2 separate regions of the Homo sapiens genome follow, and region 2 is linked to region 1. Evidence: fine-mapped expression QTL. A gene starts in region 1. The other region holds a variant in brackets. All regions are shown on one strand. Distances are between the middles of the regions.

Region 1 (5,171 bases):
CAAGACTGGGTAATTTATAAAGAAAAAAGAGGTTTAATGGACTCACAGTTTCACATGGCTGGGGAGGCCTCACGATCATGGAGGAAGAGCAAGGGAAGTCTTATGTGGCGGCAGGCAAGAGAGAGCTTGTGCAGGGGGAGCTCCCCTTTATAAAACCATCAGATCTTGTGAGGCTTATTCACTATCACGAGAACAGCACAGGAAAGACCTGCCCCCATGATTCAATTACCTTCCACTGGGTCCCTCCCGCAACACACGGGAATTGTGGGAGCTACAATCCAAGATGAGATTTGGGTGGGGATACAGCCAAACCATATCAAGGAAAGTGGGAAGTGTAAATTAGCTGCCTGGGTCCCAGAAGTGAATCATTAAACTTGAACACTGAATTTTCCTGTATCCTGAAAACTCCAAAGTATCTTAATTCCAGATGACTAGCGGTTGCTTTTAGCCATATTTTAATACATGGAAGCACTTCTGCATTCCCTCTTTTCCCCAGGCCTGGACCTCAATCCCCAGGTGTCTGCAACTCTTACTTGATATACACACAATGGATAATCAATAATGATTCAGCTAAGGTAAGGACAAAGCCTTTGCCACTTTTTACCTTTATTCTTTTTAGCCAGAGCAAATAGTGATATATTAATAGGAATACTCTTAAAAAATTGCTTTAAATGCCAGACTACCTCCTTCATATGCACCACTTAAATTTCTTTTCTTACCAAATTCCCTATTCAAATCCTTTCTTTAGGATTTACAGGATTCAGATAAATATACAGTGATCTCCACTACTGTACCCCACTATTGCCCCAGCTGAAGACCTGTAAACTATTCATCAGTACAGCATGTATGTGATTTATGAGCACGCTCATATGTATTAGTTCCCTACAGTTTCCATAACAAATTATCAAAACTCGGTAGCTTAAAACAATAGCAACTTATTCTTTCATAATTCTGGAGGCCAGGAATCCAAAATCAGTCTCATGGGGAAGAAAGCATGGTGTTGGCAGGGCTCCCTCCCTCCCTCTGGAGGCTCTGCAAGAGAATCAGTTCCTTGCCTCTTCTAGCTCTGCTGGTTGCCAGGCATTTGGTGACTTGTGGCCACATCACTCCAATATCTGCCTCTGTGGTCACATTGCCTTCTCTTCGGCCTATATCAAATCTGCTTCTCTCTCTCTCTTAGGACCTTTGCGTTTGCATTTAGGACCCACCTAGATAATTCACGATAATCTCTCCATTTCAAGCTACTTAATCACGTATGCAAAGGCACTTTTCCCTTATAAGGTAACATTTACAGGTTTCAGGGATTAGGACCTGACATATTTGAGTGGCCACTGCTCAGCCTACCATATAATTTGGGGCCATCTAGCTGGGGGACGGGTGGATCACAAGAGGCCCTGTTTAATAAATGGTGGAGGTCTAAAGTGGCTCACTCATAACATACTAGATAAAACTAAGTCCTCATTGTAAATGCACAACAACAGTAAGGGCTTTGCATACATACAAATAAATTGCTGTCCTCAATTTGTTTTGGGAGTATAATATTAACTCTATGGCATGGAAACCATTTCACCCACAACACAAGTAAGATAACCGCACTAAGATTAAAAGCAATGAGCGCAGTACAGAGATAGGAGGACCACATCTCTCTCAGCACTCCTGCACCCTTACCTGATGAGCTTCCGCACAGAGAAACAGTCCTACCTAGCATGTCTCTGGGATATGTGGAAGCCCTGGTCCTTTCCCCACACGCCCCCGCCATACCCGGCCACAACGCCTTAATCTCCTGCTGAGAGAAGCAGCAAGAACTGGTTGCCAGTCAAAAAACCTGGGCAACAGCCGACCTCACTTCTACTTTCCCCTGACGTTGGAGTTCAGCATGAGGCACAAACAAAACCTGGAGCAGCCTGAGTGGGGCCTGGAGCAGAGTGCTGTGGAAAAGGATGGAGACTTTCCAGAACTCATTGTGTTGCTGATTGATGCTGATAATGAGGGAAAGCTCTGACCCCCACATGTGGTTTAAAGACAGGGCTCAAGCTGAAAGGGCCCTTGCGCCGGCATTTAACACCATTCCGTCTTGGATGCGAGGCTGTCCTCTCTACCACCAAGTCTTCCCCATCTCCTCCCCCTGTTCGCGGCAGCGCGGTAGACACAGAGTCAGCAGTCACGTTGGGGCAGGTTACTCGGTGATTCTCTTCCCCACAAATCAAATCAGTTTGCGCAGGCCCCTGTGTTCTTCAAGGTCCAGGTTTCAGCGCCACCGTCCCCAGGGGTCTTGCAATCCCCTAAAACAACAGCAGCTCATTCCAGTAAAGAAACAATTTATTGGGCATCTTCCATGTGCAGAACAAACACGAGGCACCGGAAGATTCCAGAAATGAACACGAGTCGCTCCGGGTCCTCAGAAGAACCCCACTCCCACCCCACCATCCTCGTCTCCCGGGCCGCGCCCCGCTTGTACCTGCAACCAACACCTAATCCTAAGACACCGGCCACATCTCCGCGGGGCGCCGGCGGGCGCAGCGGCCCCACCTACGTCGACCTGGCGGCTGGGACGGGGCGGCTCCCCACTCTTCGCCCCTAGGCCCCGCGGAGGCTGCGGGGCGGCTCCTCCTCCTCGGCTGCGGCGCCGGAAGCTGCCCGCGCCCGTCACTCCTCGCGGCTGTGGCGCTCGGGGCGCTGCCCAGTCCGCGCGAGCCGCGTGGGTGACGGTTAGGACGCTCTGCGAGGCTTCGTAGTTGGGGGAGGGGAGGAGGGGGGTGCTCGGCAGCTGCCCGGCGGGGACCCCTCCCGCGCCTGCGACTCCGCCCGCCGGACGCCGTCGCTGGGGCATCCGAGCGTCGAAGTCCCCACCACCGCCCGGGCGCCCTAAGGAGTGGGGGTGTACCCAGCCCGGAGTCAAATCCTGGAGCCCTGCCCCAGAAACTACCCTGGGTTCGGACCTGCACCCGGCGCCCTCTGCCGCTTCTCCCACAGCCTCCTAACTGGTCTCCGGCCCTACTCTTGCCCCCACCCGAGCGCCTCGGGCCACTCTCGTAGCTGTCCCCACCGTGGTCTTCCCAGATAACTCACTGACCCGCACCAGTCTGAGCTCTTACCTGCCAAAGAGTCAAGCCCAATCTGGAGTTGCCCGCCGGGCCTCCTACTCTGACACCCCCACCCGGCCCCACCTCACCCCCCCCTCCCATTCCCACTCCTGGCATTCCCATTTGACCATTTCAAGTTAACAGAATTCACATTTTGCAGCTCTGTTTTCTCTGTCCCCGAATGTTCAAGTTCAAACGTGTTCTCGGCATAGCTGACCCTTCTGCCTCTGGAGACTTGTTCCCTCCGCTGTGCTACAGTTACCCTCTGTCATTATCTCTAATATAGAATTTATCAGATTTTGCTGCCCAAATTATCGATCAAATGGAACGCATCCAGAAAGGCCAGTGTCTGATAGATGCAGCCTGAGGCATTTAATTCTGCTAGCAATCACATTGTGCAGACACCTACAGCAAATAACTTTTTATGTATAAGTTGATTAGAAATATTAGTAAGTCTTACATTAAATAATGTAGCTACAAATTTTAATAAAAATAGATTAAATGCCATTAAAGATTGTTTATCATATCTTTGTAGTTAATCCATTTATTGGCTTATAGAGATCTAGGATTAGCTATAGAATCGAGCATTTTTAACAGGAAGTGAAACCATAAGTATTACATAGAAAGGTAAATAATTTAGGTCTTGTGGTTGGACAAAAAGCAATTTCTAATTTTTTCTTTTTTCTATCAAAACATGAGTGTTCAATGACATAAAAATTTTCCATACCTAATACATGGTTTCCATTGGTGTCTCATTTTGTGCTTGTACCCTGGACACACACAAAAAGGTTTTTTTCTTTTCAACGTCTTTAATTAAAAGGTGTGTTAATTAGTGTAGCATGAAATTATCTACACCCACATATATGTACGAAAAGTTATGTGCCCCTGATTTTACTATAAAATTCATCACATTTTGAAGTGTCCTGCGGTTTTACAACATTTTTTAAATATTGTATTAAAAACAGCTTCTTAGCTTTTTAAATAAAGAATTAAAAGATCAAGAAAGGGATCCAAAGTCCTTTTCCATTCATTCATTCATTCCATCCATATTTATAGGGCACCTACAACATGCTATGTGTAGGTTGTGACAATAAAGCTGGGGCCCTCTCCCTCTCCCTCTCCCCCTCCCCCTCCCCCTCCTTTTCCCTCTCCAAGGTCTCCCTCTCCCTCTCTTTCCACGGTCTCCCTCTGATGCCCAGCCGAAGCTGGACTGTACTGCTGCCATGTCGGCTCTCTGCAACCTCCCTGCCTGATTCTCCTGCCTCAGCCTGCGGAGTGCCTGCCATTGCAGGCGCGCGCCGCCACGCCTGACTGGTTTTCGTATTTTTCTGGTGGAGACGGGGTTTCGCTGTGCTGGCCGGGCTGGTCTCCAGCTCCTAACCGCGAGTGATCCGCCAGCCTCGGCCTCCGGAGGTGCCGGGATTGCAGACGGTGTCTGGTTCACTCAGTGCTCAATGGTGCCCAGGCTGGAGTGCAGTGGCGTGATCTCGGCTCGCTACAACCTCCACCTCCCAGCCGCCTGCCTTGGCCTCCCAAAGTGCGGAGAGTGCTGCCTCTGCCCGGCCGCCACCCCGTCTGGGAAGTGAGGAGCGTCTCTGCCTGGCCGCCTATCTTCTGGGATGTGAGGAGCCCCTCTGCCTGGCTGCCCAGTCTGGAAAGTGAGGAGTGCCTCTTCCCGGCCGCCATCCCATCTAGGAAGCGAGGAGCGTCTCTGCCCGGCCGCTCATCGTCTGAGATGTGGGGAGCGCCTTTGCCCCGCCGCCCCGTCTGCGGTGTGAGGAGCGCCTCTGCCCGGCCGCGACCCCGTCTGGGAGGTGAGGAGCATCTCTGCCCAGCTGCCCCGTCTGAGAAGTGAGGAGACCCTCTGCCTGGCAACTGTCCCGTCTGAGAAGTGAGGAGCCCCTCCGCCTGGCAGCCGCCCCATCTGAGAAGTGAGGAGCCCCTCCGCCCGGCAGCCACCCCGTCTGGGAAGTGAGGAGCGTCTCCGCCCGGCAGCCACCCCGTCCGGGAGGGAGGTGGGGGTCAGCCCCTCTGCCCGGCCAGCCGCCCCATCCGGGAGGGAGGTGGGGGGGTCAGCCCCCCGCCCGG
Region 2 (5,171 bases), 100 kb before region 1:
CTAGTCTTATATCAGACAAAACCCACTTTAAAGCAACAACAGTTCAGAAAGACAAAGAGGGATATTATATAGTGATAAAGGATCAGTCCAACAGTAAAATATCACAATCCTAAATATATATGCACTTAACACTGGAGCTCCCAAATTTATAAAATGATTACTACTAGACCTAATAAATGCAATAGATGCTAATACAATAATAGTGGAGGACTTCAATATTCCACTGATACCACTAGACAGGTCATCAAGACAGAAAGTCAACAACAACAACAAAAAACAATGCACCTAAACAATGCAATGAACTTAAACTATATCCTAGAACAAACAGACTTAACAGATATTTACAGAACATTCTACCCAACAACTGCAGAATATACATTCTTTTCATTAGCCCATGGAACATTCTCCAAGGTAAACCAAATGATAGGCCACAAAACAAGTCTCAACAAATTTAAGAAAAGCAAAATGATATCAAGTATTCTCTCAGACCACAGTGGAATAAAACTAGAAATTAACTCCAAAAGGAACCCTCAAAACTATATAAATACATGGAAATTGAATAATCTACTCTGGAATCATCTTTGGATCAATAATGAAATCAAGATGAAAATTTAAAAATTCTTCGAACTGAATGAAACTAGTGACACAATTTATCATACCCTCTAGGATACAGCAAAAGTGGTGCTAAAAGGAAAGTTAATAGCCTTAAATGCCTACATAAACAAGTCTGAAAGAGCACAAATAGACACTCTAAGGTCACACCTCAAGGAACTAGAGAAACAAGAACAAACTAAACCCAAACCCAGCAGAAGAAAAGAAATAACAAAGATCAGAACAGAATTAAATGAAATTGAAGTAAATAAATAAAAAACAATACAAAAGACAAATGAAACAAAAAGCTTGTTCTTTAAAAAGATAAAATTATTAGACCATTAGTGAGATTAACCAAGAAAAGAAGATAGAAGATCCAAATAAGCTCAATTAGAAATGAAATGAGAGATTTTACAACTTATACCACAGAAATACAAAAGATCATTTAGGGCTACTATGAACACTTTTATGTGCACAAACTAGAGAATCTAGAGGAGATGGAAAATTCCTGGAGATATACAACCCTCCTGATTAAGCTAGGAAAAAAAACAGAAACTCTGAAGAGACTAATAACAAGTAGTGAGATTGAAACAGTAATTAAAAAAATGCCAACAAAAAGAAGTCCAAGACCAGATGGATTCACAGCTGAATTCTATCAGGCATTAAAAAAGGATTGGTACCCATCTTAATGAAACTGTTTCAAACATAAAGAAATAGGGAATCTTCCCTAAATCATTCTGTGAAGTCAGTATCACCCTAATACTAAAAGCAGGAAAGGACATAACAAAAAAAGAAAACTACAGAGCAATATCCATGATGAACACAGATGCAAAAATCCACATATTCTATGAAGTCAGTATCATCCTAATACTAAAACCAGGAAAGGACATAACAAAAAAAGAAAACTACAGACCAATATCCATGATGATGCCGGGTGCAGTGGCTCACACCTGCAATCCCAGCACTTTGGGAGGCCAAGGTGGGCAGATCACGAGGTCAAGAGTTCGAGACCAGCCTGGCCAACATGGTGAAACCCCATCACTACTAAGAATACAAAAATTAGCTGGGAGTGGCCAGGCGCGGTGGCTTACGCCTGTAATCCCAGCACTTTAGGAGGCTGGGGTGGGCAGATCTTGAGGTCAGGAGATGAAGACCATCCTGGCTAACACAGTGAAACCCTGTCTCTATTAAAAATGCAAAAAATTAGCCAGGCGTGCTGGTGGGCGCCTGTAGTCCCAGCTACTTGGGAGGCTGAGGCAGGAGAATGGTGTGAACCCGGGAGGCAGAGCTGGCAGTGAGCTGAGATCGTGCCACTGCACTCTAGCCTGGGCAACAGAGCAAGACTCCATCTTAAAAAAAAAAAATTAGCTAGGCATGGTGGCATGTGCCTGTAATCCCAGCTACTCAGGAGGCTGAGGCAGGAGAATCACTTGAACCCGACAGGTGGAGGTTGCAGTGAGCTGAGATCATGCCACTG[C/T]GCTCCAGCCTGGGTGACAGAGCAAGACTCCGTATCAAAAAAAAAAAAAAAAAAAAAAAAAAAAAAAAAATATATATATATATATATATATATATATATATATATATATATATGTCCATGATGAACATAGATGCAAAAATCCACAACAAAATATTAGCTAACTGAATCCAACACCATATCAAAAAGATAATACACCATGATCAAGTGGGTTTCATACCAGGGATGCAGGGATGGTTTAACCTACTCAAGTTGATAAATATGATACATCACACAAACAGAATTGAAAACAATAATCATATCATCATCTCAAAAAATGCAGAAAAATCATTTGACAAAATCCAGCATCCCTTTATAATGAAAACCCTCGGCAAAATCGGCACAGATGGGACATACCTCAAGGTAACCAAAACCATCTATGACAAACTCATAGCCAACATTATACTGAAAGGGGAAAAATTGAAAGCATTTTCCAAGAGAACTTGTACAAAACGAGGATGCCCACTTTCACCACTGCTATTCAACATTGTACTGGAAGTCCTAGTCAGAGCAGTCAGACGAGAGAAAGAAATAAAGGGCATCCAAATGGGTGAAGAGGAAGTCAAACTATTGCTGTTTGCTGATGATATGATCCTATGCCTAGAAAACCTTAAAGACTCATCCACAAAGCTCCTAGATCTGATAAATGAATTCAGTAAAGTTTCAGGATACAAAATCAATGTACACAAATCAGTACCATTGCTACACACCAACAATGACCAAGCTTGGTATCAATTCAAGAACCCAGCCCCTTTTATAACAGCTGCAAGAAAAATAAAATACTTGGGAATATACCTAACCAAGGAGATGAACAATCGCTACAGGAAAAACTACAAATGCTGCTGAAGGAAATCATAGACAACACACACAAATGGAAACACATTTCATGCCCATGGATGGGTAGAATCAGTATTGTGGAAATGATCATACTGCCAAAAGCAATCTACAAATTCAATGCAATTCCCATCAAAATACCATCATCATTCTTCACAGAACTGGAAAAAACATTCCTAAAATTCATAAGGAACAAAAAAAAGATCCCACATAGCCAAAGCAAGACTATGCAAAAGAACAAATCTGGAGGCATCACATTACTTGACTTCAAACTATACTACAAGGCTATCATCACCAAAACAGCATGGTACTGGTATAAAAATAGGCACATAGACCAATGGAACAGAATAGAGAACCCAGGAAGAAAGCCAAAAATTTACAGCCACTGATCTTCGACAATGCAAACAAAAACATAAAGTGGGGAAAGGACACCCTATTTAACAAATGGTGCTGGAATAATTGGCAAGTGGCATGTAGAAGAATGAAACTTCAACTCAAGATGGGTCAAAGACCTAAACCTAAGACCTGAAACCACAAAAATTCTAGAAGATAACATCAGAAAAACTCTTGTAGACATTGGGTTAGACAAGAGTTCATGACCAAGAACCCAAAAGCAAATGCAACAAACACAAAGATAAATAGATGGGACCTAGTTAAATTAAAAAGCTTCTGCATAGCAAAAGAAATAAGCAGCAGAGTAAACAGACAACCCACAGAGTGGAAGAAAATATTTGCAAACTGTGCATCTGACAAAGGACTAATATCCAGAATCTACAAGGAACTCAATCGAATCAGCAAGAAAAAAACAAATAATCCCATTAAAAAGTCGGCTAAGGACATGAATAGACAATTCTCAAAAGAAGATACACAAATGGTCAACAAACATATGAAGAAATGCTCAACATCACTAATGATCAGGGAAATGCAAATCAAAACAACAGTATGATACTACCTACTCCTGCAAGAATGGCCATAATTTAAAAATATGACATAAGTTAAAAATATGACCAACAGATGTTGGTGTGGATGTGGTAAAAAGGGAACACTTTTACACTGTAAACTAGTACAACAACTATGGAAAGCAGTACAGAGATTTCTTAAACAACTAAAAGTAGAACTACCATTTGATGCAGTAATCCCACTACTGGAGGAAAAGAAGTCATTATATGTAAAGGACACTTGCACACGCATGTTTATAGCAACAAAATTCACAATTGCAAAAATATGGAACCAGCCTAAATGCTCACCAACCAACTAGTGGATAAAGAAAATTATATCGATCTATCTATATATATAGAGAGACTATTACATGGTGTGTATATATATATAATATAATATATTATATATATATGCACACACCTCAGCCACCTCCCATTCTTCCCCCATATATATACCATGTATATTTTTATATATATATATATTTACATGGTGTGTGTATATATATATATGATATATTTACATGGTGTGTACACATATATATGTAAATATATATATTTTTTATATATATATAATAAATATATATATGTATATATATACACACCATGTAATACTACTCAGCCATAAAAAGGAATAAAATAATGGCATTTGTAGCAACCTGCATGGAGTTGGAGACCATTATTCTAAGTGAAGTAACTCAGGAAAAGAAAAACAAACATTGTATGTTCTCATTATATGTGGGAGCTAAGCTATGAGGACGCAAAGGCATAATAATAATACGATGGACGTTGAGGACTTGGGGGAAGGGTGGGAGGTGGGTGAGGGAAAAAAGATACATCATATACTGCTTGGGTGATGGGTGCACCAAAATCTCAGAAATCACCACTAAAGAACTTTTCCCTGTAACTAAACACCACATGTTCCCCCCAAACTATTGAAATTTAAAAAAAAATGCTAAAACCCCACAAATTCACAATAAACTTAAAACCAAATGCTTTTCCTAATGTTCATATACATAGGGGTCTTGGGTTATCACAGGGACTTGGAATTTTCTTCAACAACAATTTGCTAAAGCCTTACTATATTAAAAACATGTGGATTTTGGAGTCAGAAATTGCAGAGGCCAAGTCCCCGATCTACTCTTCACTGTGACTTGGAATTTATTGACTGTTCTTTTATCTTCAGTTTCCTCATTTTCAAATGCTGTAATAACAGTACCCATTTCCCAATGTTGTTGTGAAAATTACATGAAGAAAACGCAAGTGAAGCTCTGAGTAAAAGGCCTGGCACACAGTTG

Which allele goes with the higher level. Positions count from the first base shown, and alleles are read on the strand shown. Sizes are in standard deviations (SD) of each study's normalised expression.
In carriers of allele C in region 2, the expression in lung of the gene that starts at base 2,635 in region 1 tends to be lower than with T alone (moderate effect, 0.58 SD a copy in GTEx).

Evidence for each region. PIP is the estimated chance that this variant, and not a neighbour inherited with it, causes the effect.
Region 2: its variant is the best candidate, but not a certain one, in a credible set for the expression of CCDC158 in lung (GTEx, PIP 0.80).

Annotation. Positions count from the first base shown.
Region 1 is chr4:76,418,507-76,423,677 of GRCh38, forward strand. CCDC158 (coiled-coil domain containing 158) reads right to left here and starts at 2,635. Exons shown (of 25, transcript NM_001394954.1): 1 at 2,459-2,635.
Region 2 is chr4:76,317,329-76,322,499 of GRCh38, forward strand. The region is part of intron 24 of CCDC158 (coiled-coil domain containing 158); the gene reads right to left. Among named protein-coding and RNA genes, the nearest start is that of STBD1, 13 kb to the left of the region's middle. The variant C/T (reference allele first, on the strand shown) is at 2,069.